3 linked regions of the Homo sapiens genome follow. The protein of the gene in region 1 purifies or fractionates together with the protein of each later gene. This does not show direct contact. Each region holds a gene or a part of one and is shown in the gene's direction. Other genes may lie near its edges.

What was found.
Region 2: the proteins of SLC25A37 (region 1) and RAB30 purify together in Homo sapiens (affinity purification with mass spectrometry; one large-scale study listed by BioGRID and IntAct). This does not show direct contact.
Region 3: the proteins of SLC25A37 (region 1) and TMEM181 purify together in Homo sapiens (affinity purification with mass spectrometry; one large-scale study listed by BioGRID and IntAct). This does not show direct contact.

What each region holds. Positions count from the first base shown.
Region 1 is NC_000008.11:23,527,401-23,531,152, forward strand, and holds the start of SLC25A37 (mitoferrin-1), read left to right. Parts: upstream 1-1,555; 5' UTR 1,556-1,602; coding exon 1,603-1,812; intron 1,813-3,752. UniProt on the Homo sapiens protein: Mitochondrial iron transporter that specifically mediates iron uptake in developing erythroid cells, thereby playing an essential role in heme biosynthesis.
Region 2 is NC_000011.10:82,975,233-82,978,016, reverse strand, and holds part of RAB30 (ras-related protein Rab-30), read left to right. Parts: 3' UTR 1-2,784. UniProt on the Homo sapiens protein: The small GTPases Rab are key regulators of intracellular membrane trafficking, from the formation of transport vesicles to their fusion with membranes.
Region 3 is NC_000006.12:158,563,087-158,566,738, forward strand, and holds part of TMEM181 (transmembrane protein 181), read left to right. Parts: intron 1-3,652.

The sequences.
Region 1 (3,752 bases):
GTAAAGGCTGCATAATATTTCACTAATATTATGCACACATCATAATTTCCTTAGCCATTCCCTTCTGGTTGACCATTTAGGTTGTTTCCAATGATTTACTGCTCTAAGGAATGCTTTGAAGAAGAGCTTCCTGTGTATTTGGGTTTTTGTTACATTCCCAGAAGTGGGGCAGTGGGTTCTTACAGACTTAATGCTTAAAGGGCATCCACTTAAAAATAAGGATCAACAGCTTCTGATCAGTATTTCTTAAAAACGACCTTTGACAAAAGTAGAGTTTTCTCTAGCCATTACAGAGATGGCTAAGTAAAAACACAGAGCCTGTTTTTACTTATCACATCCTTAGCACTCAGCTTGCCAGCTACTATCTGCAGCTACCAAAACTAGGCAAACAGTGCTCTTGGTCCTGACGCCTCTATTGACCTCTACCCATGCTCACATTACTGTATCTCAAATCCCTAAGAGCTGCTTGGGATGCTGATCACGGTGAGGGCAGAGAGTAGGCTCAGCCTCTTCAGGGTCTTCCCCACCCTTTCATATCTCAGGATCCAGCTTTCCTGACGAGAAGCCTTGTCTAGATAAGGCAGGGAGGCCCTGGTGCCTACAAGTTGATCAGCCCAAGTCATCTTAAGCCCTGGAACACGCAATTTAGACGGACACTTCCAGAGGCAGACAGGTCCCTCCCCTACTTTCTGATTTCTCCCTTTTTCCCCAGACTGGAGCAAAACAATATTAAAACAGCCTGGGTTACACTTTATTGAAGAGGCCAGCTTAGGACGACTTTAAGAACTAGGTGACCACAGTCTTAAGACAGGCAGGGGCAAGGCTGTAAGATTTTACTCTCAGCCAGTTCACACTCCTAACTGTGAGATCAGGCCTCTACAGACCTTATGGGCCTATCAAACCCAAAGAAAATTTCCTGGAGGTGCCTACTCAGAGGGGCTCCCTCCTGGTCACTCCTTATAGCCTTGCTCGGTCCAGGGCAGGGTGGGTTCGGTCTCTCGGTGAGAACAAGAGGAACACATTTAGCTCTGCATTATGTATTTAGGTTGAGAGAAACAATTTCGAATGAATGGGGGTCTCTCCAACAAAGCAGTCTAGAACGGGCCCCTGAGGTTTGAATTCAGGCCTTAGGAATGCCAAAGCTCACTGAGCGATTCTGTTTGCAAACCCACCCGCCACGGGGACGGATTTTCCCCGAGACACTGTCACCCATGCCTCCAGCTCTGGGCATACCCCACTGCGGCCCCTCCCCAATGACCTCCCCTGCCCCTCGCGGACCAGCCCATCCTCAAGATAGTACAACTTTCCGGGCCACCCCACGTCTCCTCTCGCCCCCGTCCGGTTGCTTGGAAATGTGCACGGGACGGTGACGTCACACAGGGAGGCGGGTCCCCACTGTCCCGCACACCAATGGCGCGGCGGCCGCCGGCCTCTTGGTTCCCGGCGATTGGTGTCTCTGGCCGCTGCGCTCCACCCCAGCCCGCCATGGCGTCAGGCGCCGCGGCCCCGGGGAGGTGGCTCCCACTTTAAGAAGTGAAGTTTTGCGCCCCTCCCCCTCCCTGCCCACCTCCTGCAGCCTCCTGCGCCCCGCCGAGCTGGCGGATGGAGCTGCGCAGCGGGAGCGTGGGCAGCCAGGCGGTGGCGCGGAGGATGGATGGGGACAGCCGAGATGGCGGCGGCGGCAAGGACGCCACCGGGTCGGAGGACTACGAGAACCTGCCGACTAGCGCCTCCGTGTCCACCCACATGACAGCAGGAGCGATGGCCGGGATCCTGGAGCACTCGGTCATGTACCCGGTGGACTCGGTGAAGGTGAGGCGCGGGGAGACTTCGGGGACGCAACGAGCGGAGAAGGAGCGCGCGCGCGCATTTGCATCCCGCGCGCCGGCAGCCTCGGGGCAGCGTCCCGAAACCGAGCTCTCCCCAGGACCGCGGCTGGCCGGGGTCGCCCCAGGAGCAGCTGCGCGCAGCCTGGGCGCCGCGCCTTCCGCCGACCCCGCGAGGGTGCCCGGTCCTCGCCCCGCACCGCCCGCTGCTCCAGCCGCGTGCCCGGCCCCGGCTGCTGGCGGCGCTGAGGCGGGGGAGGCGGAGTGGCGAGCACCGCTGGCTTCGGCGGCGACTGGGCTCCCGGGGGACGCGATCGCTGAAGCTCTGCACAGTCTTACCACGCTGGCCGTTCGGGCTGGCTGGGGCCGCCCACACGTGCGCGGTTTCCGAGGGAGCTCCCCGCAGGGGAAGCCCTCACCACGCTGGAGCTGAGAAACGTGTGGCCCTGGCCCGGCCGCGCGCCCTCGGGACTTGGTGTGTGGCTGCTGCTCCCCGGGTTATTTCGGGAACTTGGGGCCGGCAAGTCTTCTCTCGACTAGTGGCAGCTCTTTACCGGTTCGACAGCGGCCCGTGGGATCCCCTTTCTGAGGGTTCCTGCACTTCTTCCCCCGACTTTGGGTCGCCGAGCCGCCGGGAGGCAATGACGTTTGCCTTCTCCTTTTGCTTGCGGGGAGGTGGGTGGGCTTGTGCCTTACAGCCCTTGCTGTGGATTGTGTGAGAGGCACTCAGTTTCCTTTAAACCCTGTCTGTCACTTGCCCCGGTAGTTTTAACTGCATTTCTGTAAAGAGGCAGCGTTACTAGGTGCGTTTTGCCTGGTAGACTGAGACCTGCCCTCTGTCAGCCTGCCCAGAACACCCCAGGGCCAGGATAGAGTAGTGCAGGAAGTAATGCCAGTATTGACTGTTACACGTTGCACTTTTATAGGCATAACTCGCCTAATTCATGCAACAGCCCTGGGGGTTAACAGATGAAGAAACTGAGGCGCAGAGAGGCGAACCGATTACCTTGCCCAGGCTCCTACACCACCTCCTATCCTCTGGCTGCAGCTGCAGTGTGCTTTGGAGGATTCGGAGGCCTCTCTAGGTGGCAATTATTTTGCAAGGCAGGTCCCACAGAGGCACCCCCAGCAGCTTTATCTTGTTGCTGATGCTGGTCCTGCATGAGCAGGTATGAAGGCCAGAAAGTATAACTCAGAGGGTTTTCCCGGCTCCGGGGAGCTCGCTTGGAGCCAGCAGTCAGTGTCTGGACAGGCAGAAGTCCAGTGAGGAAAGACATGGGCTTCCAAGGTGCTGCTGGACCTAAGCCTGAGCCATCACCCATATGTCCCTCCAGTGTCCCAGTGGGGAGTTAGAGGAATGGTTCTCATCTCCAGGAAAGACACTGGACTGATACCAGGTGGCATTTGTATGGGAAAGAATCCCTCAAATGTAATAAAATTCTCCATGATTGAAGCTGTTGTCTCAACTGCCCTGGGCAGAGTCTGGGGAAAGTTAGGAGCAGGGAGGTGTTATCTGAGCAGGCCCTAGTCCTACTGGTGTCTTGAGATGAATGTTCTATTCGGGAACCCCACAGTGAGTTCACTTTAGAGCATCATTTTAGCTTATTTTTAGGATTAGAAATAATTAGTTGTGCCTTCTGAGCACCCTTTGACACTCTCAAGAGGCGTTTCTCACACGTTTAAATTGTGTGATCTGTGTTTAGTTTCTCCCTGCCCCATACATGTTGATATGTTTTGGTTCAGATGTCACCTGTATACTTAGTATTACTTTCCATAGCAGTTTTCACCTGTGGACAGGTTAACATGGTGTGAATGGTAGAAGGAGCCGGTCTGGTTTTCCTAGACAAGTCTGTAAAACAAGGCGTGGGTTAGCTAATCAGTGAAGTCTTCTAGGTTCTGGGATTATAACTGACCCTTAGGGGCCCT
Region 2 (2,784 bases), on another chromosome or scaffold:
TTTTCTTTACTTTCTTTTTGGATTTCATTTCTGTGGCATGAGCCTATTTGCGTTTGGAAGGAAAGATGCCTTCCTTTACATTCTTCACACTGGTAATTTTTTCATACTGAATTAAGAAATTATCATCCCTTCAAAACACATATTAATATAGCAACATTAGAGTAAGGGAGATGGCATTTCATCTCCTCTCCTCAGTCCCTTGATGTTGGAATGTTATTATCATTTCCAGGAGCCATACTTTGAAATTAAAAACAAATTGAGGCATTACCAGTCTGATGAAGGAATTTTAAATGCAAGCCATTTAAAGAATACTTGAAGGATTTGGGGAGACTTAGGTTAGGAAAAAGAGGGGAATACAATTAGTGCATTAGAACAAGATGCTCTGTGGTTCAGAGGGGTGGAATGAGGCCTACTGAATGAGGCCGTAGGGACACAGATTTGGGTTCCATGTCAGGGCGACCATTCTCAAAAAGTTGGTTCACTATGGGACAGTCTGCCTCAGGTAATAGCCTCTGTCAAGAGGCAAAGATGTGGAGAGGATCCAATTGGTTGGAGATTGGAGCAGGTGACCTATTAACCTAAATTCCATGTTGTATGTAGTACTTTGCCTCTCATAACATGTTCAATTAAATATCTGTTAATTCATAGCTAATGATTTTTTTAATGGGGCCTCGTTCTTCTGCCACAAGTGCATCCCACCTTTATCTTTCAGGGAAGAGGTTGGTTGCACGTTGTTAGGCCAAGAGACTGGCCCTCCATTATGCCCTATGCTGGACTTGCTTTGTCGGTCCATTCATTGATGTCCTGTTGAATCAAAAGGTATTGTTTTAGTAGAAGTTACATGAAGTATATTCATTTATCACTTGCTAAACATAGGCCTTGCTCTGTTTAATAAATAATGGGTGTCTCTTTCAAGATTTTAGGATAGGCCTTTTTAACAGAGCAGAATCTTCTGTTAAAGTTCTCACAAACAGACCAACTCCCAAGAGAGATGGGCTGGTGGGTCACTGACATAAAGCAGTCCACAAGATCTATTTTAGAAAAGTATCAATGACATTTCCTTAGTTGGTTTGATTCTCTTGAGAATACATGAGTTTAAAAGAACTGAGGTCAAATTGCTTTATGTGGAAAGCAATAAAAACAAGTATTTTTGACTTGCAAATTAGAGGTAACTGTAAGCAATTTTTGCTATTGAAGCCTATGGCCCAAATTATTCCACCTGCAAAATAACTTTCACCCTTGCAAGGCTGATAGACGGCTCTTCATTGGTCTTTTTTTATGGTTTTGTTTTGTTTTTTTAAGTCATTGGTCTTAAATCTGTATGGTGACAAATCTATTTGAGTTTGATTGAGACTTTCTTGGACTCCTTTGGACAAGAGGTCAGAGCACAAAGGCTAGTCACCACTTCTTTGACTTCTTGAGGTATGAGCCAAAATTTTACTTTTCCATTGATTTAAAGCAGAATTTTTGGAGATGCTGTGTTCTAGTTCCTGACGGAATCGGTGGTGGTTGCTGACTTTGACACTTTGGAGAGTGATGTGGGGAGTTATATAGAAGGGGAAACACTAGTTTAGGTGTGAGGAGTTCTAGTATGCCACAAATTAGCTGAGACTTTAGACGAAGCACAATATTTGAGCATCAATCTTCTCATCTATGAGATAGACCTGTCAGGATTATTGTGAAAATTAGATGAGATAAGTTGAAAGTACAGTGCTTGGTAAACAGTTAGCACTCAAATATTAGTTCTTTTTCACTTTAATTAAGAGCAGACTTTGAATGGTCTGATGCCAAGTGTAGATCCTTAAGAGACAAAACAAAGAAACTTTCCTGGCTTCAAAGAAAAGAACTCCATTTCTGAAAGGGTGCCTTAAAAGGAATTCATTTGTCTGATCCATCCTTTTGCCTTTGGGCATTACTACTGTCACCCTCCATTTCTTTACAAACTTCAGGCAAGGTGGTCTCTCTCTCTCTCCCAATAGGCAATTCCAGGGTTGTAAACTCATTATCAGGAAGCTTAATCTTAGAACTGAAATACCTCACAGAGCAATTTAAACCTCTTTCTTCTTGTTCCTATTCTTCATGGGAAGAAAACTGGGTTGATCCCTATCTTCTTTTTAAGGAGCCACATTTGCCATTTATTATTGCTCTTTTGCCTATTTAAAAAAAATAACAGTCAGAAAAAATAATGATTATTAAAATGATAGTCATTATTTACTTAGTGAATGTCAGGATAGGTATTTATTACTCTTAGCTTCTTATTGGTATCAGATGTAGATCACGGTCTTACTGTTGATTAACTCTTCAGTTATATATACATACTTTGATTCTTTAGTTACATAATTGATAACAAAGTGTGCTTCTGAAGAATTATTCTGGCTGTATGGCTCTTGTTTCCTCCCCTTGGTAAAAATGGAGGCATGAATCTCGGTTTTGTGATCTGCTTTTAATTTCATATATGACATTATTTGATGTACATAATTACCAACATCCAAAAGCGTTTCTTCCCCTTTCTACGTGTGCACTAAATTCTAAAACAAAAATTGGAATACAAAATGCCTAATAAAGAAAAAATTCATGTACAGAAAAGCAAAAGATAATCTACTTTGTTAAGATAATTTGTCACTAGCTGGTTGAATAATGCACAGTTTTTGTTTAAGGTTACACATTTATGCCTGGATTAAATAACAATAGTAAAACTTGACAAGTCTTTTGAAAAACAGCTGCTAAACATATTGCTTTCTGGAATGTAATCATTAGCAACAAATATTCTCTTATTCTATACAA
Region 3 (3,652 bases), on another chromosome or scaffold:
CACAGCATTGCTAGGTGGTGGGTTCCCTAGTTTCCTGAATTTTCAGAAACGGGATGTTTTGTTTGTTTGTATTTTGAGACAGAGTCTCGCTCTGTCACCCAGGCTGGAGAGCAGTGGTGCGATCTCGGCTCACTGCAACCTCTGCCTCCCGGGTTCAAGCGATTCTCCTGCCTCAGCCTCCTGAGTAGCTGGGCTTACAGGCAAGTGCCACCATGCCCGGCTAATTTTTGTATTTTTAGTAGAGTCAGGGTTTCACCATGTTGGCCAGGCTGGTCTCGAACTCCTGACCTCAGGTGATCTACCTGCCTCAGCCTCCCAAAGTGCTGGGACTATAGGTGTGAGCCACCACGCTTGGCCAGGAACTGGGGTTCTTGAGAGGTAGAGTAACTGCCCCAGGTTACCCTGCAGTGGATAGGTCCAGGCAGCTGGCCCCCAGCCCAGGTTCCTAACCACCAGGCTGCACTGCCTGGAGCCTCCTGCTAGGGCCAGCACTGCTTGTGCTGAAATGGGGCTCACTGGCCAGCGTTTGACCTACTTCCTTGTTCCCTGTGGCCTGGGTAGGATATTTGCTGAACTGACCAACATGCTCCTGCGTGTGAGTCACTGGGCTTGCAATCTGGAAAGGATACACATGAACTCACCAGTCCTTGGGTAGCTTAGACCATTGTTTATTAAATTGTGTTTTGAGGTGGTTAGGCCTTGAATGTTCACATAATAGCTTTGCGAACTCTGTTGCTCAGGCTGGAGTGCAATGGTGCGATCTCAGCTCACTGCAACCTTTGCCTCCCAGGTTCAAGCAATTCTCCTGCCTCAGCCTCCCAAGAAGCTGGAACTACAGGTGCGCGCCACCACACCTAATTTTTGTATTTTTAGTAGGGACACGGTTTTGCCATGTTGGCCAGGCTGGTCTTGAACTCCTGACCTCAGGTGATGCACCTACCTCGGCTTCCGAAAGTGCTGGGATTACAGGCATGAGCCACTGCGCCTGGCTTGTACTTAACTCTTGAATAGCTAGAGAAATGACTTATACCCAAGTTGGCTGATTGAAATTTTAGAGTTCCTATCCTGCTCCCTTTGAGAAGTTTCTTTTCAAAACCCATTAGCTGGTAGGTTACTTGAAAAGGAAAGATTTTAGTGAGGGGCCAAACAGTGAATGTGAGGGAGTGGTGGGCCTTCTTTCTGCCCCGACCTCCACATTCTGGGTGTGCATTTGTGGGTTCCAGTCCCACCTCCACACCCTGCTGCCTGGGGCCTCAGTGGGCCTGCATCCTCTCACCCCAGCCTGTGTTTTCCCACCTGTGAAATGGGCCGATGTGCCTGTCTTACAGGGAAGCTCCCAGCCTGGTACCAAATAGGTGCTCAGGAAATGCCAGCTCCCACCTCTGCGGCAGCCAGCTGGAGGGGAGACTTCATACAGTGGGGTCTTTGAAGATGTTGTTAGAATGAAATCCAAAATGCTTTCAAACAGAAAAAGTAGAGGAGAAAAAGCACAGCCATCGTTTCTAATAGCTAGCCTGGCTGAGTTCTTGCCACGCTGTTCTGACCACTATGTTTATGATTCCACCCGCACCTGCCAGCAACTCTGTGAGATGAATCTTCTGCCTCTCTCCATTTTGCAGATGAGGAAACTGAGGGTCTGGGGAACTGTTTACTTGCCTGCTGTCATGTGGTCAGGAAGTGGGGAGCCAGGCTGTCAGGCAACAGGCCGGCATTTTGGGCCAAAGGAGAAGAGATTATTTTTATACAGATTGGAAAAATAAAAACAACAGTGTGAGAATGGGCTGGGAGATTTAAAGTCCCCGACTACTGCTCAGATCCTAATTTGTCAATTCTCATGTGGGAGATGCCGGCATGAGTTGAACAAGCAGCAGGATGTGTAGTACCAGAAGTTCTCGGTCTTACCCGCCTACCGTCGTGGTGGTTTGCGGAGACCGAGATGAAGGTGTCTCTCACACCCCTTGGGCCCCTGCTGCGGATGCTGGTGTTGCTGGGTTCTGTAGAAGTGGGAATGCTGGTGCTGGCTTCCCTCACATCTCTGTCCCTCTCGCTGCAGGACAGCAATTTGAGGTGTTCTCACGACCTCTGCTTACCCGGATTGTATCTGTTTTGTGGTTCTGTGCAGCAGTCCTAGGGCAGCTGAGTGCTTGCGGACTGCTCGCCTCCCCTGCCGTGCCCTCCTGGCCCTGCTTTCTGAACCCCTCGTGAGCCCTATGTGGGAGGGGTAGGCACTTAGTGGGCAAAGTTGTGTTGGTGCCGTGGTCCCGAGGTGCTCAGTGCATCTAGTGGGGACATGGCTTTACAGCTGGCCAGGCCTGAGCAAGCATTGTGGCCTCAAGGACCAGGTCCCAGGGAGAAGGTTTTCTGGATGGGGCTGCCAGGAACTGCTGTGCCCCAGCTACAGAAGCAGAGGGCCAAAGCCAGAGCCACAGACAGCAGGAAGAGACAACGCTGGGGGGAGAAAGTTCAATGTTGCAATTCAGTGGTTCGCTTACCATTTACCATTGCAGGGAAAATAGGAGAACATGGAGGAAAACAGAAAAAAACAGGGAAGAGTGAGTTAGTAAAAATGAGAGGCATCGAAAGTTACTGGACCTGCACCATTCCTGAGGCTCAGTGCTGGCCTCTGGGGGTGGGAGGGGAGCTGCAGGTGTGGGGAGGGTGTGGTGTGGATCCACAGTGGAGCCCCTGCAATGAAATCCTGAAAACTGGTGCAGCGTGTCCTGCGGGCGAGTGGACAGTTGCTTTCCCCCACAGAGCCTCGCGGTGGGGGCGGGGGTGGAGTGACCTGTCAGTGGCCGCAGGATGGGCAGTGCCCCACAGCAGGGATGCCTGCTGTCTTGCGTTCTGAAAGGACAGTTCCCGGCACCTCGAGACAGGAGGTTTTCTATGCCTATGTGACTTTGTATGTTGCGTTTCCTTCTAAATTTTGTTTTATTTCTGGGGTGTGTGTACTGGTGGAGAACTTTGGATTTAGTAGAATATCTGAGGTGAATCTAAATAGATTCTTCCCAGTCTCCTGGCTTGTGTACCTGGACGGTTGGAGTTGTTGTGTCCTGAGATGGGCCAGGCCACAGGCACAGGACCAGGGGTTTGGTGTGAGGCAGGTCATGTGTGAGGTACCTGCTTGATAGCCAAACGGGCATGCCAAGTGGTTGAGTAGGGGTCTGGAGTTGAGGGGAGAGGACTGGGCTGAGGTCTAGAGCAGGCCATTGTTCATACCTGCATCCTCTCGCAAGCCCGAGACAGGATGAGATTACCAAGGGAGTGAGAGTAGAGAAGGGGAGGGGACAGAGAGCAGTGTGTCCCAGGATGATGATGGTGAGGGAGGTGATGGGGTGAGGAAGATGATGGCGAGGAGTTGATGAGGGAGGTGATGGTGAGGGAGGTGATGGTGAGCTCCTGAGGGAGGTGATGGGGTGAAGGAGATGATGGTGAGGAGTTGAGGGAGGTGATGGGGTGGAGGGAGGTGATACGGTGAGGGAGGTGATGGTGAGGAGTTGAGGGAGGTGATGGGGTGGAGGGAGGTGATACGGTGAGGGAGGTGATGGTGAGCTCATGAGGGAGGTGATGGGGTGAGGGAGGTGATGGGGTGAAGGAGATGATGGTGAAGAGTTGAGGGAGGTGATGGGGTGAGGGAAGTGATACGGTGAGG